3 separate regions of the Homo sapiens genome follow, and all the other regions are linked to region 1. A link means that fine-mapping ties the variant in region 1 to the expression of a gene that starts in the linked region. Tissue or cell type: whole blood. Region 1 holds a variant in brackets; each other region holds the start of a gene. All regions are shown on one strand. Distances are from middle to middle.

Evidence for each region. PIP is the estimated chance that this variant, and not a neighbour inherited with it, causes the effect.
Region 2: it holds the start of CCR2, and the variant in region 1 is fine-mapped to the expression of CCR2 in whole blood (INTERVAL, PIP above 0.99).
Region 3: CCR3 starts here. The variant in region 1 is fine-mapped to the expression of CCR3 in whole blood (INTERVAL, PIP above 0.99).

The regions. Positions count from the first base shown.
Region 1 is chr3:46,213,647-46,221,756 of GRCh38, forward strand. It overlaps a transcript of CCR3 not described here. Among named protein-coding and RNA genes, the nearest start is that of CCR1, 9.4 kb to the left of the region's middle. RefSeq lists an enhancer at 8,022-8,110. The variant T/C (reference allele first, on the strand shown) is at 3,765.
Region 2 is chr3:46,351,025-46,359,113 of GRCh38, forward strand. CCR2 (C-C motif chemokine receptor 2) reads left to right here and starts at 3,087. Exons shown (of 2, transcript NM_001123396.4): 1 at 3,087-3,153; 2 at 6,453-8,089. The coding sequence starts at 6,504. The coding sequence ends at 7,586.
Region 3 is chr3:46,238,765-46,246,853 of GRCh38, forward strand. It overlaps CCR3 (C-C motif chemokine receptor 3), which reads left to right and starts at 3,696. Exons shown (of 2, transcript NM_178329.3): 1 at 3,696-3,774. RefSeq lists enhancers at 677-1,233, 5,630-6,174.

The sequences.
Region 1 (8,110 bases):
TCACATATGCCCATGATCATAGCTCCTGAATCTTACTATCACTAATATCTGTAGCTCTTCATACTTCCTGCTGCCAGCATCCAGCCTCTGACCACCACCTCCTACATTTACTACTCACTGCCTCTAGCACCTCAACTCCAACAGTTCTTTAACCCCAGTGGGACCTCCAGTCCACTGATATTTTAATTTTCCACTGACCTTCAGCCTCCTCATGCCCTCACTTCCCATCATCTTAAAAATCCATGAGCCATCATTACAGTCTCTCCCTTAAACACACCCTCAATTCCTTTGCTCTTTTCTGATCCTGTCATGCCCACTTGGCAAAATTTTGGTCCTAGTTAGATCCAGCTCCCCCACTTGCATCTGTGAAGTTAAATATGGCCAGAGAAAATCACACAACCACAGTGACTAGGGTGGCTCTAAATGATGATAGCTGTATCCAAAGCATCCTTAATGCCCATCAACTGCATTCCCCTCTTTTAGACATTATTTCACACCTTTTGCCTTTTCCTTAAACCTCCAACACCACCTGTTATCCTCATTCTTAGCTGATGATCTTGTTTCCTATTTCGCTGAGAAAATGAAAGCCATCAGAAGAAACTTTCTACAAGCCCCCACCTCTCACCTCCCCTGCTACCGGTCACTTTTTTCCTGGACAGTTCTCTGCCTCCCACCTGTTACATGGCTGGATTCTCCATGTTCCTGTCTAAACCCATCCCTTCCGCTTGTGCAGGATCCCAACCTCTCTCACTCACTCAAGGACATTGCTCTATTGATTTTCTCTCATCTTGTCAGTTTTTCCTGCTCTATTGCATTATTCCTATCCGAGTTATTTAATTTAGCAGCTTCATCTGGGACTCAGGTTCCTCCCATCTTTCTGCTCTGACATGTTCAGACCACCTCTGCTCAGGGATGTGGCTGCTGGGGTCACACTGAGGTATGAGGACATCTAACAGAGAAAAGGGCTGCCTTTTCTTTTTGCCAATTTATAGAAATAAGGAGCCCTGATGTTCTGTGATAAAACAGCCACTTGTGAGCCAGATCCTCTGGGGAGACCAGTAGATAGTGCCTCCACCTTTCCTCCCTGGGCAAGCAGAGGGTAATGGATGCTGCAGGGCAGTGTGGATGATGTAGGGAAGCCCCTTCCCTCAGGTCTTCTGGCACAGTGAAGTGCTTAGCAGAAAGCAGACACTGGGGGGCAGGATTTGAGAGCCTGTGAATGAACCAAGAGCACATTATCCCCTCCCAATGTCCCTTCCTGTCCCCAAACACACAAGTTTCTGGGGTGGTTCCTGCTGGCAGAGAGCCTGAGAGCATGGCCATTGTACCTGAAGAGGCTGGTGCCAAGAGCTGCCAACTAGAACCTGGTAGGTCTGTAATCTAAGTGCTCGCAAGAATGGGGCAGTGGCTCATTGTGGTTTGAGGCTGGCAGGGGGTCAGGCAGGAATGAAGAGCTGATAATGATCCTTGTACTCCAAACCTAAGCTCCAGACAGTCACATGTGTGTTCCTGTCACTTATTACATCCAGTCTGAGTGCTCATGCTGGTATTTGTTCCCTTACACCTCATCCATCACACAGCTATTAAGCATGTGTTCTCTCTGTCAAGCATGGAGTAGTTAAGAGTCCTAAAAGTTGAGTTAGGTAGGGCCTGGAAGTAGTGTTATGCAAGGTGAGGTATGTGAACCAGCAGCATCTGTGTCACCTGGGAGCTTGGTGGAAATGAAGGTTCTCAGGCCCCATTGAAGGTTAGACCCAGGAATCTGTGTTTTAACAAGTCCTCCAGGTGCTTCTTATTTATGCTAGAGTTTGAGAATCAGTGCTGGACCCTGCTGTTCAAAGTGATGGCAAAACCTGAGAGCTTACCAGAAATGCAGACTCTCAGGCCCCACCACAGGTTTACTGGGTGGGAGTCTGCATTTTTATCAGATCCCCAAGGGATTTGTTTGCACACGACAGTGTGAGACACCCTGGTCTAGAGGATCACGTTCTAGTGGGATAGAAGTCTGTATAGGGTTCAAGAGATACACAATGGAAGTTAGCTGGAGTCAGAAACACTTTGCATCGATGTTTACCCTGGGGCTAGAGAAATGAGTTGGAGTCTGCCAGAGGACCAAGAGGGCTGGAGATGAATGAATGGTGCCACAGAGCAACCCAGCACACCCCAGCACATTTCAGCTTGTAGATGTTCAGTAAACATTTTTTGGTTGGTCATGGGTTGTAGGGAGCAGGCTCACTAGGCTGCCCCTATAGATGGCTACTTCTGAGACCCAACCTGCAGCTTCACTTCATGGGAATAGCCAGAATCTGGGAGTCAGACACCTGACTTCAGATCTGGTTCCAGCACTGAGTTGGTGAAGCTGTGGAGGAAAAGTCATGCCTGCCTATTGCTGATGGGAGGGGAAATTGGGTCCCACTCCATGGAGGACTGTTTGGCAATAGCTATCGGAATTTGAAGTGTATGCATTTTTTATTCCAGCAATTCCACTTTTATGAATTTATCTTACAAATATTTACACATGTGGCAGAAGATACAGATTACAGGCACATTCACTGCAATGTAAGGGACTGATTAAGTCCCGCTGGAATGCTATGCAACTTTATGTGTTGACACGAAACGCCCCCCAGGTTGGAGTGCCAAGTGAATGAGCAAGGACCTTGTACTATGTACACACTGCACACATTGGGTGAGCTTGAAGGCACCTGTGTCTCTGGAAGAATAATTGGTGTGCCTGAGGAAGAAAGGGAATCTAAAACTTATCTGAAAACGTATCTGAGGGAATAATTGAGGAAAATTTCTCCAGTCTTGCTAGTGATCTAGAAATCCAAATACAAGAAGCTCAAAGAACACCTGGAAAATTCATCACAAAAAGATCATCATCTAGGCACCTAGTCATCAAGTTACCTAAAGTCAAGATGAAGGAAAGACTCTTAAGAGCTGTGAGGCGAAAACCTCAGCTTCTCCTTTATAGGTAATCTATAATGAAAACCTATCAGATTAACAGCAGAATTCTCAGCAGAAACCCTGCAAGTCAGAAGATGTTGGGGTCCTATCTTTTGCCTCCTTAAAATAATTATCACCCTAGAGCGTTGGATCCAATCCAACTAAGCTTCATTAATAAAGGAAGATAAAGTATTTTTCAGGTAAACAAATGCTGAGAGAATTCACCACTACCAAGCCAGCACTACAAGAACTGCTAAAAAGAAGTCCTAAATTGTGAAATAAAACCTCAAAATATACCAAAATAGAACCTACTTAAAGTGAAAATCTCACAGGACCTATAAAACAATAACACAATGAAAAAAAAGGTATTCAGGCAACAACTAGCATGATGAATAGAACAGTACCTCACATCTCAATACTAACATTGAATGTAAATGGCCTAAATGCTTCACTTAAAAGAAATAGAATGACAGATAGATAAAAATCCACCAAACTCACATAAACTTAAGGTAAAGTGAGGGGGAGGGAAGACATTCCATGCAAATGGAAACCAAAAGCAAGCAATAGTAGCTATTCTTATATCAGTCAAAACAGACTTAAAACCAACAACAGTTAAAAAAGACAAAGAGAAACATTATGTAATGATAAAAGTATTAGTCCAACAGGAAAATATCACAATCCTAGATATATATGCACCTAACACTGGAGCTCCCAAATTTATAAGACAATTACTACTAGACCTGAGAAATGAGATTGATGGCAACACAATAGTCGTAGGGGAAGTCAGTACTCTTCTGACAGTACTAAACAGGTCATCAAGA[T/C]AGAAAGTCAACAAAGAAACATTAGACTTAAACTGTACCCTAGAACAAATGGACCTTACAGATATTTACAGAACATTCTACCCAAAAACTGCAGAATATACATTCTTTTCATCAGCTCATGGAACATTCTCCAAGATAGACTATATGATAGGCCACAAAATAAGTTTCAATAAATTTAAGAAAATCAAAATTGTATCAAGTACTCCGTCAGACCACAGTGGAATAAAATTGGAAATTAAAAGTTAAAAGGAACTGCCAAAACTACACAAATACATGGAAATTAAATAATCTGCTCCCAAATGATCCTTGGGTTAACTATAAAATCAAGAGGGAAATTTAGCAATTCTTTGAACTGAATGACAATAGTAACACAACTGATCAAAACCTCTGGGATACAGCAAAAGCGGTGCTAAGAGGAAAGTTCATAGCATTAAACCCCTACATCAAAAAGTCTGAAACAGCACAAATAGACACCTAAGGCCACACCTCAAGGAACCAGAGAAACAAGAACAAATCAAACCTGAACCAAGCAGAAGGAAAGAAATACAAAGATCAGAGCAGAACTAAATAAAACTGAAACAAACAAAAAAAAAATACAAAAGCTAAATGAAACAAAAAGTTGGTTCTTTGAAAAGATAAGCAAAATCGATAGACCATTAGCAAGATTAACCAAGAAAAGAAGAGAGAAGTTCCAAGTAAGCTCAATTAGAAATGAAATGGGAGATACTATAAATGATGCCACAGAAATGCAAAAGATTATTCAAGGCTACTATAAGCAAACTTATGTGCACAAACTAGAAAACCTAGAGGAGATGGATAAATTCCTAGAAATGTACCACCCTCCTAGATTAAACCAGGAAGAAATAGAAACTCTGAACAGACCAATAACAAGCAGCAAGATTAAAATGGTAATTTTAAAAATTGCCAACAAAAAAAAAAAGTCTAGGACCAGATGGATTGACAGCTTGAATTCTATCAGGCATTCAAAGAAGAATTGGCACCAATCCTACTGACACTATTCCAAAAGATAGAGAAAGAAGGAATCCTCCCTAAATCATTCTATGAAGCTAGTATTACCCTAGCTTCATACCAAAACCAGGAAATGACGTAATGAAAAAAGAAAACTACTGATCAATATCCCTCATGAATGTGGATGCAAAAATCCTCAACAAAACACTAGGTAACCGAATTCAACAGGATATCAAAAAGGTAATGCACCATAATCAAGTGGATTTCATACCAGGGAGGCAGGGCTGATTTAACATATGTAAGTCAATAAATGTGATATACCACATAAACAGAAGTAAAAACAAAAATCATATAATCATCTCAATAGATTCAGAAAAAGTATTTGACAAAATCCAGTTTCCATTTATGATTAAAACCCTTAGCAAAATCAGCATAGAAGGGACATACCATAAGGTAATCAAAGCCGTCTATGACAACCCCACAGCTAACATTATACTGAAAAGGGGAAAGTTGAAAGCATTTTCTCTGAGAACTGGAACAAGACAAGGATGCCCACTTTCACACTTCTATTCAGCATATTACTGGAAGTTCTAGCCAGAGCAGTCAGACAAGAGAAAGAAACAAAGGCCATCCAAATTAGTAATGAAGAAGTCAAACTGTCGCTGTTTGCCCATGATATGATCACATACCTAGAAAACTCTAAAGACTCATCCAAAAAGCTCCTAGATCTGATAAAGGAATTCAGTAAAGTTTCAGGATACAAAATCAATGTACAAAAATCAGTAGCACTGCTATACACCAACAGCAACCAAGCTGAGAATCAAATCAAAACCTCAACCCCTTTTATAACAGCTGCAAAAAATAATATTATAAAATACTTAGGAATATACCTAATCAAAGAGGTGAAAGATCTCTACAGGGAAAACTACCAAACACTGCTGAACGAAATCATAGATGACACAAACAAATAGAAACACATCCCATGCTCACGGACAGGTAGAATCAATGTTATGAAAATGACCATACTGCCTAAAGCAATCTATAAATTCAATGCAATTCTCATCAAAATGTCATCATCATTCTTCACAGAACTAGAAAAAAAATCCTATAATTCATATGGAACCAAAAAAGAGCCCACAAAGCCAAAGCAAGACTAAACAAAAAGAACAAATCTGGAGGCCTCATATTACCCAACTTCAAACTATACTACAAGGCTATAGTTACCAAAACAGCGTGGTACTGGTATAAAAATAGGCACAGGCAGATAGACCAATGGAACAGAATAGAGAACCCAGAAATAAAGCCAAATACTTACAACCAACTGATCTTTGACAAAGCAAACAAAAACATAAAGTGGGGAAAGGACACCCTTTCCAACGAATGGTACTGGGATAATTGTCAAACCACATGTAGAAGAATGAAACTGAATCCTCATCTCTCACCTTAGACAAAAATCATCTCAAGATGGATAAAAGACTTAAATCTAAGACCTGAAACCATGAAAAGTCTAGAAGATAACATCAGAAGAACTCTCCTAGACATTGGCCTAAGCAAAGAGTTCATGTCCAAGAACCCAAAAGCAAATGCAACAAAAACAAAGATAAATAGATGGGACTGAATTAAACTAAAAAGCTTCTGCATAGCAAAAGTAATAATCAGCAGAGTAAACAGACAACCCACAGAGTGGGAGAAAATCTTTGCAAACTGTGCATCTGACAAAATGGTGAATATCCAGAATTTACAAGGAACTTAAATCAGCAAGAAAAGAACAAATAATCCCATCAAAAAGCGGGCTAAGGACATGAGTAGACAATTCTGAAAAGAAGATACACAAGTGGACAACAAACATATGAAAAAATGCCCAACATCACTAATTATCAGGGAAATGCAAATCAAAACCACAATGCAATATCATCTTACTCCTGCAAGAATGGCCATAATTAAAAAATCAAAAAATAATAGATAATAATAATAGATGTTGGCAGGGATGTGGTGAAAAGAGAATATTTTTACACTGCTGCTGGGCATGTAAACTAGTACAACCACTATAGAAAACAGTATGGAGATTCCTTAAAGAACCAAAAGTAGAACTACCATTTGATTCAGCAATCCCACTACTGGGTATCTACCCAGAGGAAAAGAAGTCGTTACAATGAAAAAGGCACCTGCACATGCATCTTTACAGCAGCGCAATTCACAATTGCAAAAATATGGAACCAAAGTAAATGTCCGTCAACTAACGAGTGGATAAAGAAAATGTGATATACATATACCATGGAATTCTACTCAGCCACAAAAAGGAACAAAATAATGTCATTCCCAGCAACCTGGATGGAGTTGGAGACCATTATTCCAAGTGAAGTAACTCAGGAGTGGAAAACCAAACATCCTATGGTCTCACCTATAAGTGGAAGCTATGCTGTGAGGATATAAAGGCATCAGAATGACATAATGGACTCTGGAGACTTAGACGGAAGGGTGGGAAAGAGACAAGGGATTAAAGACTACACGCTGGGTGCAGTGTACACTGCTTAGGTGATGGGGGTACCAAAATCTCAGAAATCACACCTAAGGAACTTATCCATGTAACCAAACACCACGTGTTCCCCAAAAACTATTGAAATAATAAAATAAAATGATGCACATGAAGAATTTAGCAAATAATGTAAACTCAACAAACTCTGTTATTATGGTTACCTAAACTCTGTTAGACCCACCTTCGCCTTAGTGATATTAAGTTCACAACTTGAACTTGGCCACGGAGAGTATTTACACCAAGGAAACTGGAAATTGATGCTATTATATCAGGCATGTTGTGCCTGTTTTGATTCTTCCTCCAGAAAGCTGGTTGTTAACATTTACCAGCACACCATTGCAGAGTACCTATAGGCCATGAATGTACAGGGAAGATGTTTGCATTTCTTTCATCTTAAGTCTTCAAGGACAAATGGATCTGACAACAGCAACAAATACTGTATCTGAGTTTATATAAATCTTTGGTTTCAGCAGAAATAGCTTTTACTTGAATATCTGCTCTTCCCACTAGCAGCTGGGGCCTGATTCCCTAGTTGTAGGGGTATTCCTGCACATGCAAGATGCACCCCTCACATGCCCCCCGCAGCCCAATCCTTCACAAAGAGAGGTCCTGACCTTGGCTGGGCTATGTTTCAAGTCACACAAACAGTTCAAACCACACGGCTCTGCCTGCAGTTGAGGCATCTTGAACCCAATTTGCACTTCCCTTTTCTAGACTTTTAGTCTTATTCCTGTCTTCCTTTTCCCTCTGTGGGTTATTCTGCGGGGTGGGCTATTTTGTTTTGCTTAAGCCTTCATTTTTGAGCTTGCTTTCCTCCAAGAACCCCTGGCAGGTTTCCGGT
Region 2 (8,089 bases), 140 kb after region 1:
GGAATGGACCCCTGTAACAAAAGACAGATTAACACGAGAAAAGTTTATTAACGTACATATTTTATACGTACATAGGAGCTATCCAGGGAATGAATAATTCTTAAAAAGGTGACTTTGAATTCCAGCTCATATAGCATCTTCAACAAAGTTCAGTAACATTTTAGAGATATGACAAGACAAAGAAAATGAACTTTGAGCCTCTAGGGACAGTGACTTGTAGGAAGGCAAAAGGAATAAATGGAGGTAAAGGCTGGTTAGTAATACTTGTTAATGAAGATTCCTCTGGTGCCATCTCCAGGTCCACAAGGATTTAAATTTGTCTTCAGTGGTGAACCTTTGTTCACCCTGGCAGAAGGTGTGGAGGGGGGTGCAGATCCGTTTTGTCTTTGTAAGTCTATATCCTGCTTTTAGACAAATAAAGGGAGGGAAAAGAGCTTTCCTTCATCTGCTTCTTAATTGCCTTCAGCTCAACAATCCTTATGCAAAAGAGGTACATTTTAGGGTGTCAAATTCTGGTCTCCCACAAAGCATAGGGATGACAGACCACCTCACCATCCCTGTTGCTTCTTTTAAGCCTGCTCACCCCTCCAAAAATATTTTCATTCTATACTGTCTCTTCAAAATCTCAGCGGAGGGTGCCCTCTGTTATCCTGCCCTCTGTGTCAGTATAAGCCAAAGGTTTGAATCCTGGCTCTGCAACTATCTACCTCTGTGCCTCTCCTTGTTTATGAAATTACAGGGCTGGAGACAAAGATCACAATGTGAAGACAAAATTGGAGAGCGGTCCTAATCAGCCAGAGCAAAATTTCTGGCTCTTGCTCTTCCCCATCCTGGGTTGAATCATAGGAACAGGTGGCAAGATGCCAGGGTCAGGAGATTCCAGAAGTGGCAGCAAGCTCAGTGTTACCAGGTCAGGGATGACCTGTCTTATTATTGAAATCTCAGAGATATGCTCCAATTCCGGCCCAGAGACACATTGAGAGACAACTGGGGAACTTGCTATGTTCCTGAACAGGCAATGAGCTGTCTTCCAAGAAAAAACCTGAGACCCTTCAAGTCTCAGGTCTTACTTAGCACATATACCAGGTCTTACACAGGACACATGGTTACAACTGACTGAAATCTGGGCTGGGTGTAGGAGCTCACACCTGTAATCCCAGCCCTTCAGGAGGCTGAGGCAGGCAGATTGCCTGAGCCCAGGAGTTCGAGACCAGCCCGGGCAACATGACAAAACCCCATCTCTACAAAAAATAGTCAGGCATGGTGGCATGCACCTGTAGTCTCAGCTACTTGGGAGGCTGAGATGAGAGGATTGCTTGAGGTTGAGACTGCAGTGAAGCATGATCATGCCACCGCACTCCAGCCTAGGCAACAGAGCAAGATCTTGTCGCAAAAGAAAGCAAAAACACAACATAACACAACAACAACAACAACAACAACAACAGCAAAAAAGCCAACTTCTTGAAATCTGGAAAGGACACCTGGACTGCCCTGAGCATTTGATTGTTGTTGGCTCTAGCAGTGGATGCATCCTTCAACCTCTGGCACTCTGCAGGGCTCAGACTGTTCTGTTCTGTTTGTTACCTGTGGAGTGCCTGCCAGACCCTGCTCTAGCTGCTTTAGGTCCATTTACCCTCATAGACCCCCAGTCTTGTTATTCATATTTCATATTTGGGAAATGGAAACTTAGAAACTTGCCAAGTCCACAGCATGAGATCCTGCCTCCGGTGTCTGCTGGATTCCAGAAAGTGCCAGGGGCCAACTTAGATGACACCATGTTCTCTGCACAATCTTAGGAATGCTCCTAGTCTGATGTCCCCATTGCAAAATTTACATTATCTTTTAACAAAACGTCTTTCCAAGGAGGGGCATTTAAAATAACTGAGGTTCTTCTTGCTAAGGACGTTCCTGACACAAGAGATAATTTAGCATTTCCTTTTCATTAAAAAGTTTGAAATCCTGTAATTTGTGATAATGTGGATGAACCTAGAGGATGTTAAGTGAAATAAGCCACACACAGATAGACAAATACCACGTGATCTCACTCTTATGTGGAATTTTTTTTTAAATAAGTTGCTTAGCCGGGCATGATGGCACACACCTGTAATCCTAGCTACTCAGGAGGCTGAGGTGGGAGGATGGCTTGAACTCAGAAGGTGGAGGTAGCAGTGAGCTGAGACTGTGCCAGTGCACTCCGGTCTGGGTGACAGAATGAAACCCAATTTAAAAAAAAAAAAAAAGTTGCTATCTTAGAAAAAGACAGTAGAGCAGTGGTTACCAGAGACTGGGGAGGAAAGAGAGGAGGTGAGAATGGGCAGCAGTTGATCAACGGGTACAAAGTTACCATGAGATAGGAGAAACAAGTGCTGGTGCTCTGCTCCAAGTAGGGTGACGGTAGTTAATAATGAATTCTGTATATATAAATAGCTAGAAGAGAGGGTTTTCAATATCATTATTATTTCAAAAGAAATGATAAATGTTTCAGAGGATGGATATGTAATTACCCTGATTTGATCATTGCACAATGTATACATGTAGCAAAACATCACATTGTGTCCCATAAATATATACAATTATTATGTGAATTAAATAAAAAAAAATTTTAAAGTCTTATCTAAATGAAATTTCTAACCAGATTCTGAATCCATGATACCACTGAAACCAGCACACATGATCGCAGTAAAACCTCATTATACTTCCTCCACTATCACCAATACCCTTTATTCTCTGGAACATGAAACATTCTGTTGTGCTCATATCATGCAAATTATCACTAGTAGGAGAGCAGAGAGTGGAAATGTTCCAGGTATAAAGACCCACAAGATAAAGAAGCTCAGAGTCGTTAGAAACAGGAGCAGATGTACAGGGTTTGCCTGACTCACACTCAAGGTTGCATAAGCAAGATTTCAAAATTAATCCTATTCTGGAGACCTCAACCCAATGTACAATGTTCCTGACTGGAAAAGAAGAACTATATTTTTCTGATTTTTTTTTTCAAATCTTTACCATTAGTTGCCCTGTATCTCCGCCTTCACTTTCTGCAGGAAACTTTATTTCCTACTTCTGCATGCCAAGTTTCTACCTCTAGATCTGTTTGGTTCAGTTGCTGAGAAGCCTGACATACCAGGACTGCCTGAGACAAGCCACAAGCTGGTGAGTTGTAGGCATTTTTTCCATTACTTTCTGATTCATAGGCTCAACGCACCTCAAAGCTGGAAATGCCGGGTCTGGGTACACCCTGGGGAACTGCAAAGCCTGCACACTTGGGGGGAATGATCAAGATGAGAGGCAGGGGTGGGGATGGCATGTGCACCAGGAGATGTTAGAGAAACCCTGAGGAAGAGCAGCGTGCAGCAGGTGATGGGGGAGAGTGGGCAGCAAGCGAGGCCAGGACAGCCACTCTGCTCAGTCACCAGTCCACACACCCAGGGGCTCACTCTGCCCCTCTGAGCACCCAAGGACGTTAAAGAGCTGGAACTGTTAGTCTAAATATAGGACCATCCAAGCTCTGAACCAAAATGTGTCCCTTGCCTCAACTCAGGAGATCCACAGAGGCAGAAGTAAGGAATTTATTTTCTGAAAGATAGATTTCTATCAGTTCTGGGTGACATGTTCTGACACTTGAAATGACACCTAGGACAGCACATTTCAGGCATCTTGCTCATTGTTCACTGTAGTAGAAGCTACATGCTAGCCAGTTGTAAAAATGAAATTAAGTAATGTGTGCACAGCATTTAACATAGCATCTGAGCTTCAGGAGCACTCAATTAATGACCACAGTTGTGATTCTTTAGGCAGATGCATTTTTTTCCAACTTTGATCAGAGGTCTTATTTAGCTTCTCCAGATTTCAAGAATCTGGCTCAGTGATATGAAATACAAGACTTGTGAAAAGTGTCAATTGCAAGAGAAATGGAAGGATAAAGTATACAGGTGGGTGGAAAAGAAATTCACAGTCACTGCCAGAAAAAAAATTCTTGAGAATCAAGTCCTGATGATGTTAGGGCTTATAGTTCTTATTATAAAGAGTTTTATGTACTCATTCAGTGAACATTTATTGGTGCCTCCTTTAGCCAGGTACTATCATAAGAGCTGAAAATAGAAGCATAATCCAGTCCTTGATCTTGAGGAACATGCTGTGTGTAGCAGATAACATAATAAGTGCTTATCTAGATGCATGCAGTGTTATGTGATAAGAGTAATATGACAGAGGATACAGATTAGGCTTCACAGAGAAGGGGGATTTGAGCAGGAGGTATTGAAGGGTGAATAGAAGCTCACCAATCATTTTGGGCAGAGGGGCAAGGACCTGCAAAACCACTGAAGCATGAAGGAAATGGTGAGTTTAGGGAAAATGAAGAGAAGATGGCTGTGACTGAAGCACAGGATTTGGGATTGGAGAAGGGACTGGAGGTGAGGCTGAAAAGAGGCAAACTCAGAAAAGATGTTGTGCTGGGCAGTCTGGACATTATCTTTGAAGCCCACCACATATAAGTCATAGGGCTACTGGAGGTTTTAAGCTAAGAGTGACTATTCAATTTCAACTTAAGAGAAGATAGGTTGAGAGGGAACATGGCTTGAGATGAGCCATGAGCAAAGGAAAGACTACAACAAAGCCAGGAGTGAGGAGTGTGTGAAGCAAGAAAGTGACAGTTGAAAGCAGTGCAGAGGGGATGAATCTGAGAGGCATCTATGAGGTGGAACTCAAATGACATGATAATAATACAGGGCATTTCTCTGTGTCAGATGCTGTCCTAAGTCCTTACTCCATTGATCTTCACAGCAACTCAGCATAGTTAATATTTTATGCATAAAGAAATCGGCACTTGAAGGAGTAATTGGCCCCAGATTACACTGCCTATAAGGATTCAAATCCAGGTTTGTTTGGCTCCAAAAACTGGCTCCTAATTTTCAGAAGGAGAAGCAACCCAGGGCAATGCCCAATTTTGCTTCTTAGGCAATGGAGGAATCCACAATCGGAAGGAGTTTTCAGCAGTGCCCCATTTGGGGTGGGTTGAATTTGAGGTCCCTGCATGATACCCACTTTGCTCACTTCAGTGCCTAAAACTGAGTATGGTTCATAGTAGGTGTTCAATAAGTGTTGATGCAGTGAATACATGCATGGGGAGATATGCATCAGGCAATGGGAAATTCAACTCTAAGGCTTAGGGGAAAGCTGGAGCTTGAAGACAGAGCTTTAGAAAACAGTAGCATAGAAGGGAGTAGGAACCATGAGTTTAGACAATACAATTCAGGAAGAACTTTGTAGCAAGGATAAAGAGGCAAAAAATTAAAGAGGTGAGAGCTAAGTGTGGTGCCTGGGGAATCTTAAGGTGTGGGCACGGGGAGGAGATGCCAGCAAAGAACATGAATAAAAAGCGGTAGCACAGCCCCTCCCATCTGGAAGCCAAAAAGAATTGTAAATGGAGGAAGTTAGCAGAAGGATCAAATACTTGAAGAGGGTGGAATTGGAATAAAACCAGGGCATTTGAAAAATTGGGTTGTCACTGCAATCTTAACAAGAGAAGTTTTGGCAGGATGATGGAGGCAGAAAGCTGAGAGAATCATCAGTTAGAACGTTTTTGACTTCAGAGAACAGAAAATGCAGTTCATAATGGCTTTAAAACAGGGGCTTGTTTTTCTCCCAGCAATTTGAGAGGCCAAGGCGGGTGCATCAGGAGGTCAAGAGACCGAGACCATCCTGGCCAACATGGTGAATCCCCATCTCTACTAAAAATACAAAAATTAGCGGGGCATGGTGGTGCACGCCTATAGTCCCATCTACTCAGGAGGCTGAGGCAGGAGAATCACTTGAACCCAGGAGGTGGAGGTTGCAGTGAGCTGAGATCATGGCCACTGCACTATAGCCTGGAGACACAGCGAGACTCCGTCTCCAAAAAAAAAAAAAAAAGAAGGCAGAAGGTGAATAGTTCAAGGGTGGGTTTAGGACTCAGTGATAATAGGATTCTGCCTGGCTTCTCATGGTTCTCTAGGTCTTCCATTCATGGCACCATGCCCTCACTAGGCATGCTGCCAGAGCAGGAGGGGCAGGTGGAGGGTTCTCTTGTGTCTGTCTTATCAGGGAAGAAGAGCTTTCTCAGAAGCCCCCAGCAGACTCCCTTTTCATATTATGGTCCAGCAATGAGTCACAGACCTATGCACCACCTGCAAAGGAGCCAGAGAAAACAAACGCCCAGCGCTTTTAGCCTGAAAATGAGAATCTGGTTTGCTGGGGAAGATAAAGGGTGTCGGAAAATGGCTGTTGGGTAAATCATTGATGTCTGCCACTAGGAATGAAAGGCAAATCAGGAACTGGCACACATGCTTTCAGGGAGATGGCTGCAAGGGAGAGGGCAAAGACTGGGAAGTTGCTTATGTGGTGCCAGACTATTTGGAAGATCATGGATTGCGGTGTTTGTGTTGTGTGGTCATCATTTTGTTCTTTGTTTACAGAACAGAGAAAGTGGATTGAACAAGGACGCATTTCCCCAGTACATCCACAACATGCTGTCCACATCTCGTTCTCGGTTTATCAGAAATACCAACGAGAGCGGTGAAGAAGTCACCACCTTTTTTGATTATGATTACGGTGCTCCCTGTCATAAATTTGACGTGAAGCAAATTGGGGCCCAACTCCTGCCTCCGCTCTACTCGCTGGTGTTCATCTTTGGTTTTGTGGGCAACATGCTGGTCGTCCTCATCTTAATAAACTGCAAAAAGCTGAAGTGCTTGACTGACATTTACCTGCTCAACCTGGCCATCTCTGATCTGCTTTTTCTTATTACTCTCCCATTGTGGGCTCACTCTGCTGCAAATGAGTGGGTCTTTGGGAATGCAATGTGCAAATTATTCACAGGGCTGTATCACATCGGTTATTTTGGCGGAATCTTCTTCATCATCCTCCTGACAATCGATAGATACCTGGCTATTGTCCATGCTGTGTTTGCTTTAAAAGCCAGGACGGTCACCTTTGGGGTGGTGACAAGTGTGATCACCTGGTTGGTGGCTGTGTTTGCTTCTGTCCCAGGAATCATCTTTACTAAATGCCAGAAAGAAGATTCTGTTTATGTCTGTGGCCCTTATTTTCCACGAGGATGGAATAATTTCCACACAATAATGAGGAACATTTTGGGGCTGGTCCTGCCGCTGCTCATCATGGTCATCTGCTACTCGGGAATCCTGAAAACCCTGCTTCGGTGTCGAAACGAGAAGAAGAGGCATAGGGCAGTGAGAGTCATCTTCACCATCATGATTGTTTACTTTCTCTTCTGGACTCCCTATAATATTGTCATTCTCCTGAACACCTTCCAGGAATTCTTCGGCCTGAGTAACTGTGAAAGCACCAGTCAACTGGACCAAGCCACGCAGGTGACAGAGACTCTTGGGATGACTCACTGCTGCATCAATCCCATCATCTATGCCTTCGTTGGGGAGAAGTTCAGAAGGTATCTCTCGGTGTTCTTCCGAAAGCACATCACCAAGCGCTTCTGCAAACAATGTCCAGTTTTCTACAGGGAGACAGTGGATGGAGTGACTTCAACAAACACGCCTTCCACTGGGGAGCAGGAAGTCTCGGCTGGTTTATAAAACGAGGAGCAGTTTGATTGTTGTTTATAAAGGGAGATAACAATCTGTATATAACAACAAACTTCAAGGGTTTGTTGAACAATAGAAACCTGTAAAGCAGGTGCCCAGGAACCTCAGGGCTGTGTGTACTAATACAGACTATGTCACCCAATGCATATCCAACATGTGCTCAGGGAATAATCCAGAAAAACTGTGGGTAGAGACTTTGACTCTCCAGAAAGCTCATCTCAGCTCCTGAAAAATGCCTCATTACCTTGTGCTAATCCTCTTTTTCTAGTCTTCATAATTTCTTCACTCAATCTCTGATTCTGTCAATGTCTTGAAATCAAGGGCCAGCTGGAGGTGAAGAAGAGAATGTGACAGGCACAGATGAATGGGAGTGAGGGATAGTGGGGTCAGGGCTGAGAGGAGAAGGAGGGAGACATGAGCATGGCTGAGCCTGGACAAAGACAAAGGTGAGCAAAGGGCTCACGCATTCAGCCAGGAGATGATACTGGTCCTTA
Region 3 (8,089 bases), 25 kb after region 1:
ACCCTACAATCACTGATACATGGAATAACACAAATGAATCTCAAACTCATTATGCTGAGAAAAAAGCTAGACACAGGAGTAGATATGGCATGATGCCATTTATATATGATATTCTAGAACAAGCAAAACTAAGCTAGAGCAACATAACGCAGATCAGCGGTTGCCTGGGACAGGGGATAAGGGAGTCATTGATTGAAATGGGGCATAAGGTACTTTTTGAGGTGTGAAAATGTCCTGTATTTGATTATGATGGTGATTCAGAGAGGTATGCAATTGTTGAATTTGTTGACCTGTACCCTTAAAATGGGTGCAAGCAAATGACACTTCAATATGTTGTTAACTGAAAAACTAATGAGGGAAATCGTAGAGATTATTACAAGAATCTGCCTTATTGCAAAATGCCAGAAAAAAATGCTGTCCCGTCCTCTTTGTTTTTCTCCAAGGTGTAGAAATGGAAGTGACTGAATTTTTACAATCTCTTGCGAATTAGCTATTAAAAATCTTATGCATGTAGCTTCTTTACAGAAATCTCCAAATGCTTTTTAAATCTTTGTAACCTTCTAGGAAATACTATAATTTGTTGATTTCAGATGAAGAATGCTTTGTTATAGTTTTAACTCTGCAGAGATGTCATTTGGTAATTGTGATTATTTATCAAGCTCCTACCATGTGCTTCATCTTAGCCAAAATTTCCACTGTAGATGGTGAAATTAGGGCTCAGGAAGGCTACATGACTCATCTATATGAGCCATAAATGGGCGAGGTGAACCCGGTCTGTGTGGTGCTAAATCCCAGGTGCCTTCTATTTCACCACTGGTGAGAACACAGAGTGCTAATTAAGGAGACTGGAGCTGGAATTTCCACTCCACCATTTAGTCATGTGTGAGCTTGGACAGGTCACTTGATCTCAATTCCCTTATCCACAGGTTAGGTGATTACCAGCATTGCTCCTCATTCTGGTCTACTGCGTAGTCCCAGGTGGAGCAGTTTGCATTGATTACCCTGTGAATGGCACCCCATGGAGGCAGCTCTGGGATGACAATCTCCCTATTAAGTTAAAAGGTCATTGTGGGATTTCCACCCAGAAAATTTATGTGGAATACTCTGAAAACCCTCAAACACTGATCTCAAATAAGGTAGTACCAGTACTATAACTCAAAATCCTTCAATAGCTCCCACATTTCCATGGAATCTACTGTGAACTCGTCAACTCTTTATAATCTAGCCAAAACCAGCAGTCAATCTTATCTCCCTCCACTCTTTGCTCCATGCCCACTACCTCTGCCAGGCCCATGCCTTTCCTGTCTTCAGATGTCATTGACCGCCTGTTGGCATGTCATGTGATCTAGGGATAAAACTCCCCAGATAAAGTGAAAGGAGTGGAAGCCAGATGCACCACAATGGGCCTGCAAAATTCCACCCTCTGCCAGAGACCTGCAGGTGGCTCTGAATGCTCTGCAGGGCTGGAGCTTCTGAATGTGTGTCACCCTAACAGATGTATATAATGTGTTACACATTTTAAAATGTGTATGTGTGTATATATATTAATCTCCCTGGCTCTTGGTTCCTGGCATTAGGATGCAAGCATATCTGTTCCCTAATTTCATTCCTGCCTACCCCTGCACAGGGACCAAGCTCACCTCACCTCTTGGTCTTGGTAGCTCTACTTCCTTTTTCCTGGAAACTCTCCCTACCCCTTCCACATGGCCAAATTCTGTTCATCCCTCGGGCCCTTTCTCTTCCATGAAGCCGTTCCCAGTCCCTTCAGCCCACATGGTCCTGTTTTCTAAACCCTGTAGAACTTGCATTTGACATCCCACATGCTGAATCAGAGCACAATATATTATACTATATTTCAGACCACCCTGAGTGGCTGCCTCTTTCTCACTGAGAGGGTCTGTCATGACAACTATGATAAGTATTTTCATGACGCTGTCCACATGCCACACACTGGCCTCCACGTAGTCCTAATTTATTTGCTCCTCACACAGATCCTACAAGCTAGGCATTGCTACATCATTTTGCAGTAGAGCACGCTGAGGCACACAGAGGTTATGTAGCTTGCCCACGGTGATATCCCTATTAAGCGGTAAAGGTAGGTTTTGCATTCAGGTGTCCAGCAGCAAAGTCTGAGATCTTACTATCAGTCGAAAATTTTGTTTTAGCCAATTTGAATATGCTATATTGAATATGCTGTAGATTAAATAGTGAAATGTTTCTTTGGTTATGCTTTAACTATATTTGAGCATTCTTGATATTTTATCAGGTCTCTGTTGTCTCTGATCACCAACAAGGTTATAGACTCTTTAAGGTGGAAACTGAGCCCCTTCCTCCCTTTCTTCTCTTTCTCTCAAATTCTCTCCCTATTCTTTCTCTCTCTCTCTAATGCACATGTGTGTGCGCTCTCTCTCTCTCTCTGTCTCTCTTATCCTCCTTCCTCTTTCTTTGTCTTTTGTTCCTATGTTTTCTTTATCATGAAGCATACAGCACAGTCCTACACACATATCAAACGTTTGATAAACACTTTGGTGCATTACACTCATTTGTCGAGTTAGTCAGTGTATCAAAGATCACTTCATGCTTAGTCAGAGTTCTTCCCACAAATATTGGGTGAATACCTGCTCTGTGCCCAGTGCCATGCTAGGTCCCAAGGGACACATCAGCACATACAGCAGGCACATGGCTCTGCCCTGTGACGCTTTGCCCTGAGACATGGCTCTGCCCTATGACGCTTATGTCACAGTGGCATTCTACCCACACTTTACATTTCCTTAGCCCTGTATATTCTGCAGAGACTTTTCACATATTTATCTTAGTTGGTTCCACGGCAATGCTATGACTTAAATATCATTATTTCCAGTTTAGAGATGAAAAAGCTGAGGTCCAGCAAGTTTAAATTACTACCCCCAGCTTATGTAGCTGTGTATGCCACAACTGAAACTCAAACTCAAGTCTTTTAGACTTGTCTAAACCTTTGCAGCCACATTTTGCCCCATCCAAGTGTCTACTGGACCCTGCAGAATAATTAGTTTATTCCTTTGCCGGGAAATTCTTATTTCATTCTTCATCCTGTCTCCCGATGAGTCAAATCAATGCTTATTCAAGAATTATAAATCCCAGGTCTTTAGGAGGCCGAGACTCGCAGATCACTTGAGGTCAGAAGTTTGAGACCAGCCTGGCCAACATGGTGAAACCCTGTCTCTACTAAAAATACAAAAATTAGCCAGGCATGGTGGCATGTGCCTCTAATACCAACTATTCCAGAGGCTGAGGCAGGAAAATCCCTTGAACCCAGGAGGTGGAGGTTGCAGTGAACTGAGATCATGCCACTGTACTCCAGCCTGGGTGACAGAATGAAATCCTGTCTTAAAAAAAAAAAAAAAATTATAACAACCCCCCACCACTAAAAATGAGCAATGCCAATGGGTGGAGAGCCCCTAAAGCAGCACTAATTGCAAGGATTTCTCAGGTGACTGGTTAGTATGTGGTGTCAATCATGAAAAAGAAGAACTGCACGAAAGTATCTTTCTGAAAACTTGCAAAACTGAGAAGCTAGTCTGTTTAAAACAGGAAGTTATATACTTACATTGTTTACTACTTTACTAATGTCTGTGATCTGATGGTATCTCTGTTTCAGGAGTGGTGACGCCTAAGCTATCACTGGACATATCAAGGACTTCACTAAATTAGCAGGTACCACTGGTCTTCTTGTGCTTATCCGGGCAAGAACTTATCGAAATACAATAGAAGTTTTTACTTAGAAGAGATTTTCAGGTAGGTGTCGCTTTTCCAGGAAAAGGGAGGTGGAACAAGGAGGGGTCCAGGCAGGTGGAAGTAGTAACTTCCAGCAGTGCTCTTGGATCTAGGAGGGAGGAGAGGAAGGTACACAGCAATTTAGAGGTAGTATGGGGCCAGAGTGGGAGAAAATATGGCCACATATCTCCATTTTCTTCTTGCTTTTTCTAATTTTCCCTTTCTGTCTCCCATCCACACAATGATAAGTTTGCGTGTAGCACTCACCCAAACTTGGCCCTTTATACCTCTTTAGTCAACATCTGTGCCCATGTTACCCTCCTATACTTTCACAAATTCTCAACTATGTGCATATGACTACTCCAAAGAGCTTACACTTAATAGCTTGTGTTTATTTATATTGACTTGTAAGAAATAGCAAAAATATAATTTTACATATATATGTGTATATATATATATATACACATATATATATATATATATATACGCACACACACATACATTTTTATATATACAAAGTCCTCCCTCAGTATCTGTGAGGGATTTGTTCCAGGACCCTTGCAGATACCAAAATTCATAGATGCTCAAGTTCCTTATATAAAATGATGTAGTATTTGCTGATAACCTACAAATATCCTCCAGTACCCTTTAAATACAAGTACCTAGATTACTTGTAATACCTAATACAACGCATACAGAGCGCTTCATTCATGTGGAGTCAACATAGCACTTGCTGCGTGGCAAATTCAAGGCTTGGTTTTTGCAACTTTGTGGAGCTTTTTCCCAGATATTTTTGATCCGTGATTGGTTGAATACACAAATGTGGAACCCATGGATACAGAGGGCTGATTATATACATATGTGTGTGTGCATTAAGTATGTATGTGTGGAAATATATATATTTATTTGAAGTTTTCATTGAAAATCCACACTAAATCAAGCTACTAGATGAGTCAGTTGATTGATTTGGTGTCTTTTTTTCTGGGTGAATGAGATTGTCTGTGTTAGAGGGTAGAGCTAGAAAGCCTTACCGATTCTTCTGGAAACGCCTGGATTGACAGAGGATGAGTGTTAACTTTGACAAGTACTTCAAGTGAGAGTGGTGGGAATAAGGGGTCTTCCACATGGATGTGGTATAAGTTGAAGTATATTTTTGAAGTGCAGCTCTTTCCAGAAAATGGTGATGATTACACTGAACCACGCAGGATGAGTTAGCTCTTCTGGGAGAAGAAATATGAGCCCTTTGTATGACTTAATAAGAAAAAAGCAGATCTGTACAGCAGAATAAATTGGGTAAAGGGCACAAAGAGATAAATCACAGGAAGGGAAATATGAATGACTAATACTTGTAGTTAAAAAAAATCAGTAATGAAATAAATGTTAATTACAACAATAATGGCAACCCTTTTGCCCATCTAATTGGCCAAGTAATTTTTTCTTTCTTTTAGATCTTCTCCATATTGATGGATGCTTGCTGAAATGGGCACCATCACCTACTAGTGCCAAGAGTATATATATTGTTACACACTTTCTGGAAGCAATTTGACAAAATGCATCAAGAGACTTCGAAATATAATTCAATGTAGAAATTGTGATTTGTGTAATATACCTTAAGGAAATAATTTTAAAATGCACACAAATATGTTTATTGCAGTATTATTTATAGCAGAGCAAATTGTGAATAACTTAATCACACAACAAAAAGGCAATGGTTAAATAAGCATGATTATCTATACAATATGTTGGAGTCATTACAAATTACATTTTTAAGTAATTTTTAGCCACAAGGAACTAGGTGAAAGGTAAAGAAGTTAAGGTATCAGAATACAAAATGATATACAAGTGTACTATCTTTCATGCGCGTCCGTGTGAAGAGACCACCAAACAGGCTTTGTGTGAGCAATAAAGCTTTTTAATCACCTGGGTGCAGGCAGGCTGAGTCCGAAAAGAGTCAGCGAAGGGAGATAAGGGTGGGGCCGTTTTATAGGATTTGGGTAGATAAAGGAAAATTACAGTCAAAGGGGACTTGTTCTCTGGCGGGCAGGAGTGGGGGTCACAAGGTGCTCAGTGGGGGAGCTTTTTGAGCCAGGATGAGCCAGGAAAAGGGACTTTCACAAGGTAATGTCATCACTTAAGGCAAGGACCAGCCATTTTCACTTCTTTTGTGGTGGAATGTCATCAGTTAAGGCGGGGCAGGGCATTTTCACTTCTTTTGTGATTCTTCAGTTACTTCAGGCCATCTGGGCATATATGTGCAAGTCACAGGGGATGTGATGGCTTGGCTTGGGCTCAGAGGCCTGACACTGTCAATTATAACATACATGGTACCTGGAAAGGCAGTGGCTCTCTCTCCATAGCACAGTTGGAGGTGGAAGCACTGGGTCCCAGAAAGCTGAAATTCTGGTCATGGTGACTATCCCACAACCATGTTATTTGGAATGTATATGCATACTTTCCTTGTGAAAACATATTCTTCATGACCAACTCCTTCAATAATCCAAAATCATTTGGCTGGTGGGCGAAACCCTGTCACTTAAGATGAACTGACCGCACTCAGACACAATTCTGAAAGACACAAGCATGAGGTGTAACTTTTGCATTAGTAACTATTATTAATGATTGGAAGCTCTGGAAATCCATGTGCTGCCCTAAAATACCAATTCTGGGAAATGTTTGTGGCTGGAAAGAAGACTGCATTCATTCATGATTTGAACTTTGAGAGGCTCTTCTTGTGTATTTCCAGGGAAGAAGCTCACTGGCTCCCTCATTCCGTTCCTGCACTGTTCTCAGAAAGTTCTTCCCCATGTGTGGATGTATCTAGTATCCTCCAAGGTCATCAAATTTCTGCTCTATGAGAGTCTACTTCCTCTTCTACAGGAAGAACTATCGTATCATAGACTTTTCTATCTTACGTGGGCCTAAAACATTGCCTAATCCAACCCTTTAATTAAAAAAAAAAACTTTGATCCAGACCAAAGGCATACAAAAACAAAACAAAACAAAACAAAACCTAAAATGAATCCAAATATGATTATTTTCCTTTTTTTTAACTTTTATTTTAGGTTTGGGGGTACATGTGAAGCTTTGTTACGTAGGTAAACTCGTGCCATGGGGGTTTGTTGTACAGATTATTTCATCACCCAGGTATTAAGCCTAGTAGCCAATACTTGTTTTTCTGCTCCTCTCCCTCCTCCCACTCTCAAGTAGACCCCTGTGTCTGTTGTTCTCTTCTTTGTGTTCATGAGTTCTCATCATTTAGCTCCCACTTATAAGTCAGAACATGTCGTATTTGGTTTTTTCCCTGCATTAGTTTGCTAAGGATAATAGCTTCTAGCTCCATCCATGTTCCTGCAAAAGACACTATCTGTTTTTTTATGGCTGCATAGTATTCCATGTGTATATGTACCACATTTTCTTTATCCAATCTGTCATTGATGGGCATTTAGTTTGATTTCATGCAAAGGCTATTATTTTTCATACAAAACATTCCAAGTTCTGCCAACTATGGCTGATGTTTTGGGACTGTTATCATCCTACTTCCTTCTATAGTCTAGGTTGATACTAACCCTCTTAAAATTTGGTGCCTGGAACAGAACATAATATTTCAGATGTGTAGTCTGGACAGTGCAAAGCAGAGTAAAAATTATTCTACTCCATCCTTTCATACACTTAAGAAGAGTTTATTAAGCATCTTTCATTTGTCAGGCATCATGCTGGACACTAGGCCTGTACTGTCCACTATGGTGGCTACTTGCTTTTATGCGTGTCCGTGTGAAGAGACCACCAAACAGGCTTTGTGTGAGCAACATGGCTGTTTATTTCACCTGGGTGCAGGCGGGCTGAGTCCGAAAAGAGAGTCAGCGAAGGGAGATAAGGGTGGGGCCGTTTTATAGGATTTGGGTAGGTAGAGGAAAATTACAGTCAAAGGGGGTTTGTTCTCTGGCGGGCAGGAGTGGGGGTCGCAAGGTGCTCAGTGGGGGTGATTTTTGAGCCAGGATGAGCTAGGAAAAGGACTTTCACAAGGTAATGTCATCACTTAAGGCAAGGACCGGCCATTTTCACTGCTTTTGTGGTGGAATGTCATCAGTTAAGGTGGGGCAGGGCATATTCACTTCTTTTGTGATTCTTCAGTTACTTCAGGCCATCTGGGCGTATATGTGCAAGTCACAGGGGATGGGATAGCTTGGCTTGGGCTCAGAGGCCTGACATTCCTGCCTTCTTATATTAATAAGAAAAATAAAACAAAATAGTGTTGAAGTGTTGGGGTGGCGAAAATTTTTGGAGGGTGGTATGGAGAGAGAATGGGCGATGTTTCCCAGGGCTGCTTCAAGCGGGA